Linked DNA regions of Homo sapiens: all the other regions are linked to region 3. Evidence: fine-mapped expression QTL. A gene starts in region 3. Each other region holds a variant in brackets. All regions are shown on one strand. Distances are from middle to middle.

Region 1 (4,242 bases), 140 kb before region 3:
TGTAAGATACATTTGCCTCATCATTATTTCTTGGGAAAGAAGTCAGCCAGAGGGGTCATCATATGAGCTCTGAGTCACAGGGTACAGGGGAGGAGCAACTATCCCAGACTCAGGAGTCCTAGTTCTAGTCCCAACCAGACGTGTGACTTGACAAACAACCACTTCCCACCCATGCCTGGGTTTCTGCATGGAGAGAATGTTAATAAAAGTGGAGTGCTAATCTAATGCCTATTCCCAAGGTGAAAGTGGGCATTGGTGGGGTTGGGGGTAGTTGTTGCCGAGGCAGAAGGGGTAATAGTTTACAAGACCAAAGTCAAGAAGGACCAGAGCTGGTGAAATGAGGCTGTTGACCTGTCCAGGAGGCACTATGAGGAACAGGTTCAAACCTCCAGCTGCTCAGTCCCCTGGGATCATTTCTGTGCCCCCACCCCCCATTATTTCCTATCATAGTTCTCTATTATTTAAAATAACACAAAAAAACACAATTTTAAGTTAAATATTCATGTGATTAAATTTTAAATGTATCTCTGCTATTATTCTGTAAGCTTTATCCAATGCTCATTCTGTATGAATAGACCTTAGCACAGTATTCACCAGGCACAGATTAAATGGAGATCTGTTGAATGACTTAATGGATAGATGGATGCGTGGAAGCAGTGTTTCCCAAGCTTCAGCATTCCCTTCAAATGGCTCATCTGCCTTCTATGTGTTAATGAGCTTGTTCCCTCTTCCCTCGCAACTAACCCCTAGCCCCCATCCAAGCAGAGCCCAAACCACTTTCTCTGTTCCCAAGAGAAAAACATGGATCTCTTCTGCTTGCTCATCTGACTTGGCATTGGGACTCTTCATTGATTACATGGCTGCTGTCCTGAGAGTCTTTACCTTTATGATGGAAGAGTTAGAAATTAGCCCAGTCCCGAAGATTACTTGAGGCCATCCATCAGCCACCACCGAATTTCTAGAGTAAGTTTGCTAAGACCTCCAAGACCACTGTGGTTCTGACAAGGAGAGCAGCTTGATTGTTTTGTTCTTGTTATTTGTTAGGCCTGTGTACCTTCCAAACAGTATCATTCATCCTCCCAACTACCTTGTGGTGTAGATGCTGTTCTTATTTCTATTTCCCATGCAAGGGTACTGAGGCACAGAGGGGCAATTGCCCAAGGTCACACAAACAGCAATGGGCTGAGCTGGCTTTGGATTCAGGCAGCCTGAGTACAGAGACCATGCCTGTAACCATTATGATCAATTTCCTCTTGTCCTAAAGTGTGTTCCTTTTGGTTAAGTTCTGCTCCAGCTGTGAGATTTCTATTCTAGGGTTCATACTGGGTCTCCAAGTAATGCCCGATTGCAAAGTGGGCGGGTGTGGAGGGGGCTGCTGTGTCCCGGGGAGAGGAAATATTTTGATTTTTGAGTGTAAATGGTGCATACAAGTTCTGCAGATTGTCCTCCAGGGGCTGCAAGCTGTGCTTTCAGGAAACACTCAAGTGTCCGCTCTGGACAGGATCAGCTCAGGGAGGAGGGGCAGGTGCCCAGCTCCTGCCTGCCAGATTTGGGCAAGCAGCCCAGGACAGAGGTGACTCCCACACCTTCACTTCCCCGATACAGGCCTGGTGTGGAAGCTCTGATTCAGCAGAGGCAAACTCTTTCTCACCATTGCATTTATTTCTGCTTTAAACAATAAGGATATAAAAGAGAATTTGGGAATTAAATCCAAAAGTATGCCAGTGGACAACAGCATATAGAGGTATTTCGTAAAGCTCCATTTTTAAGTAACAGAAACCCTCCCAATTAGTGATTTTAACCCTTTTAAAAAATTGCTTGGATTAAAATAAGCTTTTAAGCAAACCTGGAACCAATATGCTGTTGTTTCTCCTGTTTGTATCAATCTTACAGCTGTTGCTTTGCTAGGATTAATTTGCCTCTGAGGGGTTTCAACACTATCCTCCCTGGTGTATTTTCAGAGCCCATAATGTCATGTAATCGGGACCATGTTATTTTTGTCTGAATCTCTGGGAGTGATGTAAGAGGAAAAAGGAAACTAGCTAACTCCCAA[C/A]CATTTGACCAAAGGTTAAATTAGTCTTGGCCTTTCCCCAGCTGGACAGAATGCTGCTCAAACATTTATTCCATCCAGCCAGGCAGAGTGGAAGCCCTCCTCCTTTCTTCTTTAATTGTTTTCCCTAAGATATCCATCCCCATCATGCCCCCAAATAACATGCCCATCCTTTTGCCCTCCTCCCCATGCCCCACCACCTTCACATCGTTCATTATAGAGCATCAGCACTGGAGAGAAGTGTGTAGAAAAGACTCAGGAGGTAGAAGTAGATCCTGATGTGGGAACTGGAAATATGTTTTTCTTGAGAAAGTCTTCCAGTCAGTGAGTGGCTGCTTGGAGGACACACTGCTTGGCTCCTTGCCTTTGTTACCAATGCAGATACCCAGCATTGCCAGGATCTCAGAAACACCCTGATACTTCCGATTGTAATTTCTACTTGAAACTGCCAAGAAATGCAAGCCAAAAACTCCACCCAAGCCCAGTAGCGGGTGTCCTTGTAAGACACATAGCCATGTCAACATTTCACCCTATCAGACTTAAACTTGGTCCAAGTATAGGAGGTTTCATTGGGGCTGGGAGTGGACCTTTAAAAACTAGCATATCTCTCCATCGACACTACCTACCTATCTACTTTGTATTTTCTTTCTTTCTTTCTTTTTTTTTTTTTTTTTTTTTGAGATGGAGTCTCACTTAGCTGCCCAGGCTGGAGTGCAGTGGCACGGTCTTGGCTCACTGCAACCTCTGCCTCCCGGGTTCAAGCAGTTCTCCTGCCTCAGCCACACAAGTAGCTGGGACTACAGGTGCGTGCCACCACACCTGGCTAATTTTTTGTATTTTTAGTCAAGATGGGGTTTCACCGTGTTAGCCAGGATGGTCTTGATCTCCTGACCTTGTGATCCGCCCGCGTCGGCCTCTCAAAGTGCTGGGATTACAGGCGTGAGCCACCTTTCCCGGCCTACTTTGTATTTTAAATAACTTCAGGGCATAAGTTGTGGCTATTGAATGACACACCAGGCCAGTGAAATATTCATGCTTCATTTTTGGCATTTTTTTTCTTTTGTCAGCAGGCAGAAATCCATTCAGTGGCCTGTACGGCAAACTACAGCCTTCTGAAAAAAATGTCTCCTCTCCCAGAAGCAAGGAACACTGTGATACAGTAGAATGAGCTGGGACTTTGGAGCTAGAAGACCTATAAATGCAATGGCTAACATTTATAGAGACTTCAAGTCTATGCTAAGCACTTTATATGCATGATTTCTTTCAGCATGTGCAATGATCCCAGGAGGCAGATACTTTTATTGTCCTCATTTTCAGAGAAGGAAATTGACTCTTCAAGTGTCTGGGTAACAGCCTAAGGTCCTAGAAGCAGAGGGAGGAAACCAGTCTGGGTTTATTGGGACAGCAAGTATATGGGCTACTCGACACTGCTTGCCTGAGAGCGTGCTATGAACCCACCTCAGTTCCTTCTTCCCTGAAATGGGAATAATAAAATTTGCCTTTCCTACAGACAAGTTGGAAAGTGAAGCACAGATGTAAAAAACTGTGGACACTGTGAAGCAATATGCAAGTGGTTCTGTTATTCCTATGACTGAGAAATGCTGTACAACAGGGACCCACCTCCTGCCTCCTGAGCTTCTGTTTTTGGCCTCAGCTCTTGCAATTCATGGGGTAATGGTGATGGTGGCTTACCTAAATGGTAATGATGACATTTCAAGTCTCAATGGATAAAATGTAAAAAGAAGTAGCAGCAAGAGAACAAGGAAAGGATCTAAGAAAACAAGGGCATATGGTGGCAAGGAGAGAGAAGGAGAAACAGGATGCTGAAATAGCAATCCTTGGGTCAGAATTTTTCCTATTAACACACTAGCCTGATGTCCATTCGGACATCTTTATCCACTCAGATTCATTCTTTCAAATGCATTCTGCAAGTAGCTCTCACATCTGACTTTTCTCTTTCCCCTCTGTTGCTGTCTTGGGTCAGGTGCCCATCACCATTCACTTGGGCTTCGTCATAGATGTCTTTGTCAAAGAGGCCTCCAGTCTCATCTTTTTCCAGCTCATCGTCCATCCTGTCAGCAGAAATCTTATTCCCCAAAGACTACCCTACCCCTTGAAGATGAACCTTTAATTTCTGAGCATGAGTAACTACCTTTCACGGCCTGGACCCTGCTAAGATTTAAAACTGTAGG
Region 2 (4,242 bases), 270 kb after region 3:
TCTAATAGCTACATTAAAAAGGTAAGAAGAAACAAGAAAAATTACTTTAAATAATATATTTTATTTAACCCAATATATTCAAAATATTATTTCAACATACAATCAAACATAATAAATCAATTAATAATATAGTTTACATTCTTTCTTTCATATTAAGCCTTCAAAATCTGGTGGCTATTTTATACTTAAAGGACATCTCGATTTGAACACCAAATTTTCATCAGAAATACTAAATTTGTATTTAGATTTTAAAAAATATACCATTAAAAAATAGATTCATATAACCAAAGTGTTCTAAACACATTTAAAAGTTTCGAAATAAGTCAATCAAACATCAAAAATAATTTTTTTCTTTTTATTTTTTTGAGACAGAGTCTTGCTGTCTTGACCAGGCTGCAGTGCAGTGGCATGAAGTCTGCCGGCTGCAACCTCCACCTTGCTGGTTCAAGCGATTCTCCAGCCTCCTGAGTAGCTGAAACTACAGGCATGCACTACTACGCCCTGCTAAATTTTTTTGTATTTTTAGTAAAGAAGGGGTTTCATCATGTTGGCCAAACTGATCTCGAACTCCTGAACTCAGATGATCCGTCTGCCTCAACCCCCCAAAGTGCTGGGATTACAGGTGTGAGCCACCATGCCTGGACCCAATTTTATTTTAATATTTGCATCTACATTGGCCAAAATAGCTCACCTTTTTTTAGAAGAAAAAGTGTACCCATTTTAAATAAACTTTTGTCCAAGTTAGGTAAATTCACCAACTCTTGGGTCAGCTCAGTCTCACTGGCATGAACTCAAAAGAATAATATATAAATAAATAGGAAAAGAATTCTAAATGTATCAATATGAACAAAATGTCTTCCCAGTTTTTCTAGAAAAGAGACTTTTTGCAACCAATTTACATAGTACTCCAGGACCCTCCAGAGGATATGAATATCTATGGCTGCCCAAGTCCCTGATATAAAATGAAGTAGTATTTGCATACAACCTATACACATCCTCCTGTATAATTTCAGTCACTGATACATTACTTATAATACCTAATACAATGAAAATGCTTGCAGATAATTATTTTACAGTGTATTGTTTTTAAATTTGTATTACTTTTTATTGTTGTATTGTGATTTTTATTCTTTCCCAAATATTTTCTATGTACTGTCCATTGAATCTGCAGATGACATTGTAAGCTGGTTCAACCTGAGAATATAGGCCAACTGTACTTTCTTTTTTGGTTTTAAAATTTTGTTTTATTGTGGCAAGAACATTTACCATGAGATCTACCCTCTTAATAGGTTTTTGTTTGTATTTTGTAGAGAGAGACAGAGTCTGGCTTTGTCACCCAGGCTGGACTGTGGTGGTATAATCATAGCTCACTGCAGCCTTGAACTCTTGGAATTAAGGGATCTTCCTGCCTCAGCCTCCTGAGTAGCTAGAGCTATGGATATGTACCACTACACCACTACGCCTGGCTAGTTTGTTGTGTGGTTTTGGTATTTTGGTAGGGTTTCTTGTTGTTGTTGTTGTTTGTTTTTTCTTTTTGTTTTTTCTTTTTTTGGTTTTGGTTTCTGTTTTTTTGTAGAGACAAAGTCTTGCTCCGTTGTCCAGGTTGGTCTTGAACTCCTGGTCTCAAGCAGTCTTCCCACTTCAGCCTCCCGAAGTTCGGGATTATAAGCATAAGGCACGCGCCTAGCCCCTGTACTTACAGTTACAATTTAAATCTTCTGCACTTGATTTATG[T/C]TAGAAAAAAGATGTAAAATTGTTATCATTGGTTTGAATTATGAAAGTCTTCAATTTCAACATAAATTTTTGTGCCTGTCTAATTAGGTCACAAATAAGCTGTTCCTTTACTTGAAACTTCAAATTTAGCTTGTTCATATGCAGTGTAACATTGAAGAGAAAACACAAATCACATTACCATTTTGTGTCTTTGACTATTTGGCAAGTATTCCTTTGGTTTCAAGAAAATCTTGAATTGGATCTAACAGTACAGCAAATCTTTGTAAAACTCTTCCACGACTCAATCAACCAGTATTGGCAAAGAACACAGGATCGTTAAATTCATCATCTTCTATTTCTTTCAGTGGTTCCACAGACTGGTGATGATTCATAGCTTTTGCACATATACTGAACAATCTTAACAACTGCATCCATACAGCTTTCATAGTCTCCTTCAGAAAACTGAGCACATGTAGTTTCAGTAATACGTATTACATCATGGAATTAAGAATTAAGGGAAACATCAATCTCTTATTCCAAGATTCTAATAAATCTACATTTTTAAACTGATGTAACTAGATCACAATTACAACAGAAGCTAATTTTTTCATATCTAAATGAATTTCTTTGATAGCTATAAGAGATTCACGCAAGGACAGAAAACCAAACACCACATGTTCTCACTCATAGGTGGAAATTGAACAATGAGAACACTTGGACACAGGGCAGGGAACGTCACACACCGTGGCCTGTCAGGGGATTGGGGGCTGGAGGAGGGATAGCATTAGGAGAAATACCTAATGTAAATGACGAATTAATGGGTGCAGCAAACCAACGTGGCATAAGTATACATATGTAACAAACCTGCACATTGTGCACATGTACCCTAGAACTTAAAGTGTAATAATAAAAAAAAAAGAAGAAGAAAGTAAAGATTAGAAAGGTGAAGCAAAAAAAATAGAGAGATTCAAAGATATTCATGCCTTGAGTTCAACTTTTTAGGGCACAAATTCACATTTCTTTGTAAATTTGGAAGTCGTTTGAGAAGAAAGTTGTCTAAGTGCTAACTGAACAGTGTCTTTTACATCACTGAGCTCATCGAAACCTGGAGAAAAGTACTTGCAGTTTTTCAAATTTGAATCAATTTATCTTTGATATTATTAAATGGTCTTATATTCTACTAACAACTGTTTGGTGGCTTAATTGAAGATCTTTCACTTTTTATAAAATGGTATTTTTAGTCTTTTCCATTATCATTTCCAACAAATTTTCATAACTGAGATAATTTATTTTACTCTTTGTCCACCTAAAAGTGATTTCCATTTTCGTTCAAGAATCCAAGCCATTTTAAAGATAACCAAAGGCACACACTCAGATAATGCTGAAAAATTTTTAAAAATTTTATTGGACATTTACTTCTTATTTCAGGTGTCTGAGTTCATTGATTCTTTTTTGGCTATTCAAAGGAAAGTTCTTATCAAATTCACTGTGCATTTCCTGCAAATTTCTCTTAATATTACTCACTTTATTATTTTTAAATGTTTTATACAATAATAGCTTTTGCATTTTGCTCTGCCATAGCAAACTGAGACTGCCCTGAAATCTAAAATTTGCTCCAATCTTTTTTTTACTGTTCCAGTCACAATATTAGCTTCTGCATCTCCACTAGATTCCATGACAGTAGTATGTCTTCATTTTTAATTTAAATTTTTATCTATACTTAACTAGAAAACCAACTTAATGATATTACAATTAAATGCAATAATGTTAAAAAGTTTAACAAAACTTATTACTAATTACAGTTTACACTGTAACTCATGTTGCCTGCATGAAATATTCAAATAAACACAAGTTAAATCAGATACAAAGAAAGAAATCATTCAAACTGAATTACCTGCCTGACACCCACTAGATCAGTGAGGTATTTGTGTTGACTACAAGATCTTAGGCGATGTAATGAACTGTCCTACCAAAATAATAAAGTTGTGTTTAACAGAAAAGTATTTGATACTGCTTCAGCTTTTAACTTAGATTAATTTAAATAAAATGAATAATTCTGTTCCTCAGTCACCCCAGCCACATATCAAATGCTCAGTAACTACTGTGACTGGTATTAGGTGGCGCAGCTCTGGTGGGAGGCAGGGAGAAGGTCCGAGCCAGTGGGCGAGGGCTTGCGTTTCCTTGAGGTTCCGGGAGTTGGGAGGGGAGAAAAAGCATTTTGAATGAGGCTTCTGGCAGCCCCCTTCACTTCAATCACGGTTGGCTCCACTTTTATGTTTTACTCGTTGGATGCCCATATAAGATTTAGTTGGAAGAAAGCATTTCACTGTTTTTCTTTAAGAGTTTGAAACCAAACTTGGGTTCTCTATTTCCTTGCTTCTCTGACAGGGAGAACCTCAGCATGGTTCGGAAAGGCAGGTCTCAGGCTCCACTCTAGGTGATTCACGTGCGCATTAAAGTTTAGGAAATATTGGACTACATGTTTTTTTTCAGCCCAATGATCTCCTTTCCCTATGCTTCTTACACACA
Region 3 (4,242 bases):
GCTGAGGAGGAAAACTGCTGGGAATGCTCACAGATACCTGATTTTACAAGTTTTTGTGGAAAGAGCTCGCCTTTAGATTAGTGTTACTCAGTGTTTATGAGGGTTGTTTGTCAAGGCAAAAATAAGGTACCTCCTCCCCACAAATTAAAGAATCAAGTTACAATCCATTATTTCATTTCTGATTGTTTTTCTTTGTATTAAGTGGGAAAGTGGATACTGGATAAAAGTTCCCCGAGCTAAAAGACTCCACATTAAAGGCTCCAATTAGCTATAAATCAGTTGTCTTTCCTACTGGGGGAGAACAAGAGAGAAAAGAGAGAGGGGGTAGTTAGGGAGTAAGAGAACTGGAAGAGCTTCCAAATTAAATTCTGAAAAACGTACCTATTGCATACCTAAAATTTCTTTCAGAGGCTGTTAGAAAAATCCCATCAAAAATAAGACTAAAATCAAACCTTCCCAAATCTGAGGGTTAGGTCTTTTCTCCTGTGTAGATCTTCCATTTTAAGACCTTTAAAAAGAGCCTGAAGAGGTTAGAGACCCTCATAAAATAAAACTTCTAAGCTGCATGCTTTCCCTGCTCGTTCCTAAACCCAGACAAGTGCCACACATTGGCACTATTGTTATGCAAACAATGCCTAAAAGGTTATAACCATTAACGACCTCTCATTAAAACGGCTTTGAAAAATTTGTCACACCATCTAAAAAAGCTAGCAGGTACATTAAATCCATCTAAATCGACATTCAAAACACAAATCGCCCTGATTTGTAACCTAAAACTCAATGCAAGTAAAATCTCAATATTCTGATGTTGTTTCTTGTATATCTCATTCAACCACTAAGCCAGATGCAAACAATTTACTTCTCTACAAAATTTATCTTGTAAAAAAGCACGATGGAATACATCTTTAATCAACCTTTAACCATATGCATGTGCGTCTATGCGTTTGCGTTAATTGGGAGAAGTTGAGTGTAGAAATGTACCGAAAGGACTAGAAAATCAAACCAGAGAACTACAAAATGAACTCCAAGAAACGTGGTTTTCAATCCCATCTCTCTCTCACCACCTCCCTCAAAATGTTGTAACATTACAATACCCCTACGTTTGTAATCGATCATTTTTTTTCTATGTCGAATTTGTGGAAAGTAAATTCATTTTATATTAGGTAGCAGACGCATATTCTTTTTTAGGCGATGCAACAACAAAAATCCTGCTTAGCAAACCCAAGATGTCAACGTTCGTTATAAAAAAAAAAAAGTAAGTTCTTCAGTTCAAAACCGAACATGCTAACAAATATTAAAACTTTTTAAGTTTCCCAGGGAAACTGCCGCTGCCTACAAAATTCACATGAAACGCTGACGTTGGAGTTACTGTACTTATCAGTCAGGTTTCCGTGAAATTTGTCAAACCGGCCAGAGCGCTGGTGTCTTGACAATTCCTTACGGGAAAGCCCCTCAGCACCCTCCGGGCTGTGGAGGACCTGATTGGGACCAACAGCCGAGGGGCCCGGAAGGCGGAGGACCGAGAGGCGACGGCCAGGCTGCGTGGCCAAGCTGACGGGGAACCCCGGCCTCCATCTGAGGATACTAAGCGGTTCCGACGCCTTCCCCCGCGGCAGTCGGGACCGGGAGAATCGGACAGAAACCAGCCTCAGAGTCCGGGGCAGGAGCCGTTGACGGCTGCCCCTCAACGCTGCGCTTCGGGTTGGGTTAAGTCCCCAAGGCGTCCTCAGACCACGGCGGGGCTTCAAACGCCCCAGTCCCGAAGACAGGCAGGGGGTCCCTCTGCTGCGCCGGGATGACAGGCTGGCCCCGACGACCCCGGCCCCGTCCCGCAGCCCTCACCCGCTGAAGAGATCGGGGAAACCGAAGAAGGTTCTAGAAAGTCTCCGTGGACGACGGGCGCTGGGCGGCCGCTTACCTTGGTGTACTTAATTTCGAGATTGGGCGTGGGCGACGGCAGGAGGTGCAGCGACGCCATGAGGGCGGCGGGGTCGGCCTTCACCTCGCCGGGCATCTCTATCTTGCTGGAAGTCATGGTGGCGGGCCGGGTGTCCCTAGCCCGCGGCGTGGGGCAGTGCGGGCTGTGCGCGCGGTCCGCGGCCCGGGGGCGCGCTCGCCTGTATATAGGCAGGTGTCAAGCTGGGGCTCTTCTTATTGGACGTGAGGGCCGAGGCGCGGGGGGCTGGTCCATCCTACCTAGGACGCCCGGCGCAGCCTCCATTTACATAAAGCCCGCGCCGCGCGGCCGGGACGCTTGGCGCCCACGGTCAAGTCCGCCCGGCGCTCCCGCCCCCCGGCCGCGGAGACCAGCCCACGCCGCCTCCACAGTCCTCGACGGTGGGAGCGGAACTTGCGCCGCGGCCCGCGGGCCTCGGCCAGCCGGACTTGGTCTCCGGGTCCCTGGGTCAGAGTCGGCGGGAGGCGCACAGCGGCCGAAGTCGAGCGAGGGTCGTGGCCCCCGGAAGCGGAGCTGGCAGGGGCTGGCGGGGACCGGAGCGGCCCGGTGCTGCTTCGGAGTAGAGAAAGGCCAGGAAAGTCCAGGCTGCGGAGGGCGGCTCCCAGCTCGCCCACGTTCCCTCCCATCCCCGTCCCAGGACCCACCGAACCCCGTCCCCCTTCCTTTCCGGAGACCCGGGAGGGCGTCCTCCGTTCTCCTCCTCCGGGCAGGGGCGCCAGGCTCTCGGCAGCTACGCCCTCTCCCCCGACCCCCCGACTCCCCTCAGCCGGGCCGAGGTGCATGGTGGCCAGAGGGTCAGGGAGAGGTGGCAGTGGGTGCGAGTCCCCCTCGCCTCGGGCTCAGAATGAGGATCCCTGCGAGCGGGTCAGCGCGGGGCGGCCCTTGCCAGGCGTCGCCCGCCCAGTTGCTGCCCTCTGCCGGCCGGGACCGCCCGGGCGGCTTGCGCTGTGGCGGGAGGATATGGGCAGTGATCATCCCCGGCTCCTCCGAGGAGCTGCATGCTTCGTGGGCTCCTTTAGTTCTTCTCGGATCCCCTCTTCCGGCTGTTTCCCCTCCTCACCCAGCACACCCACAGAAACACTATTTTGTTTTTCTGTTGTTCCTTACACGCTAAGAGCTATCGTCCCGCCAGACCTTAGGCTCATTTTACTGTCCCTTTGGGATTGAGTTTCCATCTCCCCCCTAATCTAAGTGTTTCCAAAGTCTAACAAGCTGCCCTCTAGTCTGTGGATCGGCCTGCAGGTGTAAACCAAGAACCTAGAGACCCTGCCTCAGAATGGGCTTTGGACTCCGTGGACTAAATCAAGGCCGCATGGAAAGACCTGCATAAGTCCCTTCCCTTCCTTACTCCTCACTCCAAATGTAAGCTTGACAGGGGCCTACAGTGTTGATAAACGCTTTTTCTACACTACCAAGCAACACTGTGATTCTCGTCTTTTTGTTTTGTTTGAAGAGACAGGGTCTCACTCCTTCACTCAGGCTGGAATGCAGTGGCACCGTGACAGCTCACTGTGATCTTGAACTGGGCTCAAGTGACCCTACCACCTCAGCCTCCCAAAGTGCTAGGATTATAGGCATGAGCCACTGCACCCGGCCTGATTCTCATCTTAAATGCCATTTTTAGAGCCGCTGGAGTCCCATTTCTTGGGCGTTAAGAAAACATTAAGCATCAGCCAGAAAACATCTTTCCTTAGATACTTTGAGTAACTAAAACTGCCTAATGCTCAGCGCTCAGATGCTAAGCAATAGTGAAAACAGACAAAAATATTTCATTTTAGTATTAGGTTTATAGAAATAAGTTCCAGCCTCTCAGAACCCAAAGTGACCTGGGTGAATCGTTTTCATGGAGAAACTACAGACCTTAGCTTGGGCAGTCGAGGGATCTGTACTCAGGGAATTTCTATGGCCAAAAATTATGACTTAATAACAGTGTATGCTCATAAGATATACTTTTATCAAAGCCTTAGAAGGTTAGAGATACAATTGAGAAATAAAAAAGTAAAATCTTAGAGTTCATTGGGGAGAAAGAGAGGGTTCCAGCAAGGGGGAACAGTGATACCTGTGGAAAAACTTATCACTAGTTATGAGAGGCTGTGGGGAAAACATGAAAAAGAGCCATAACAACATGAGCTGAGTGCTCCAAGGAGGACGCCTACTCCCTGGGAAAGCTGACCTTTGGCTGGGTCTTAAGGGAGAAGGGAGGCTTCAACAAGAGCAAAAAGAACACTATAGAAAAGGTATAGAGGCTGGGCACGGTGGCTCATGCCTGTAATCCCAGCAGTTTG

Which allele goes with the higher level. Positions count from the first base shown, and alleles are read on the strand shown. Sizes are in standard deviations (SD) of each study's normalised expression. Not every link is listed here.
For the expression in tibial artery of the gene that starts at base 2,096 in region 3, A is the high allele of the variant in region 1 and C is the other (small effect, 0.22 SD a copy in GTEx).

What was found. PIP is the estimated chance that this variant, and not a neighbour inherited with it, causes the effect.
Region 1: its variant is the best candidate, but not a certain one, in a credible set for the expression of ALDH1A2 in tibial artery (GTEx, PIP 0.81).
Region 2: its variant is the best candidate, but not a certain one, in a credible set for the expression of ALDH1A2 in whole blood (TOPMed, PIP 0.79).

What each region holds. Positions count from the first base shown.
Region 1 is chr15:57,921,476-57,925,717 of GRCh38, forward strand. No RefSeq gene overlaps it. Among named protein-coding and RNA genes, the nearest start is that of ALDH1A2-AS1, 140 kb to the right of the region's middle. The variant C/A (reference allele first, on the strand shown) is at 2,054.
Region 2 is chr15:58,338,272-58,342,513 of GRCh38, forward strand. No RefSeq gene overlaps it. Among named protein-coding and RNA genes, the nearest start is that of LIPC, 92 kb to the right of the region's middle. The variant T/C (reference allele first, on the strand shown) is at 1,735.
Region 3 is chr15:58,063,616-58,067,857 of GRCh38, forward strand. It overlaps ALDH1A2 (aldehyde dehydrogenase 1 family member A2), which reads right to left and starts at 2,096. Exons shown (of 13, transcript NM_003888.4): 1 at 1,919-2,096. The coding sequence starts at 2,035. ALDH1A2-AS1 (ALDH1A2 antisense RNA 1) reads left to right here and starts at 1,610. Exons shown (of 3, transcript NR_147215.1): 1 at 1,610-2,127; 2 at 3,200-3,319. RefSeq lists enhancers at 1,114-1,633, 1,634-2,153 and a silencer at 2,762-2,951.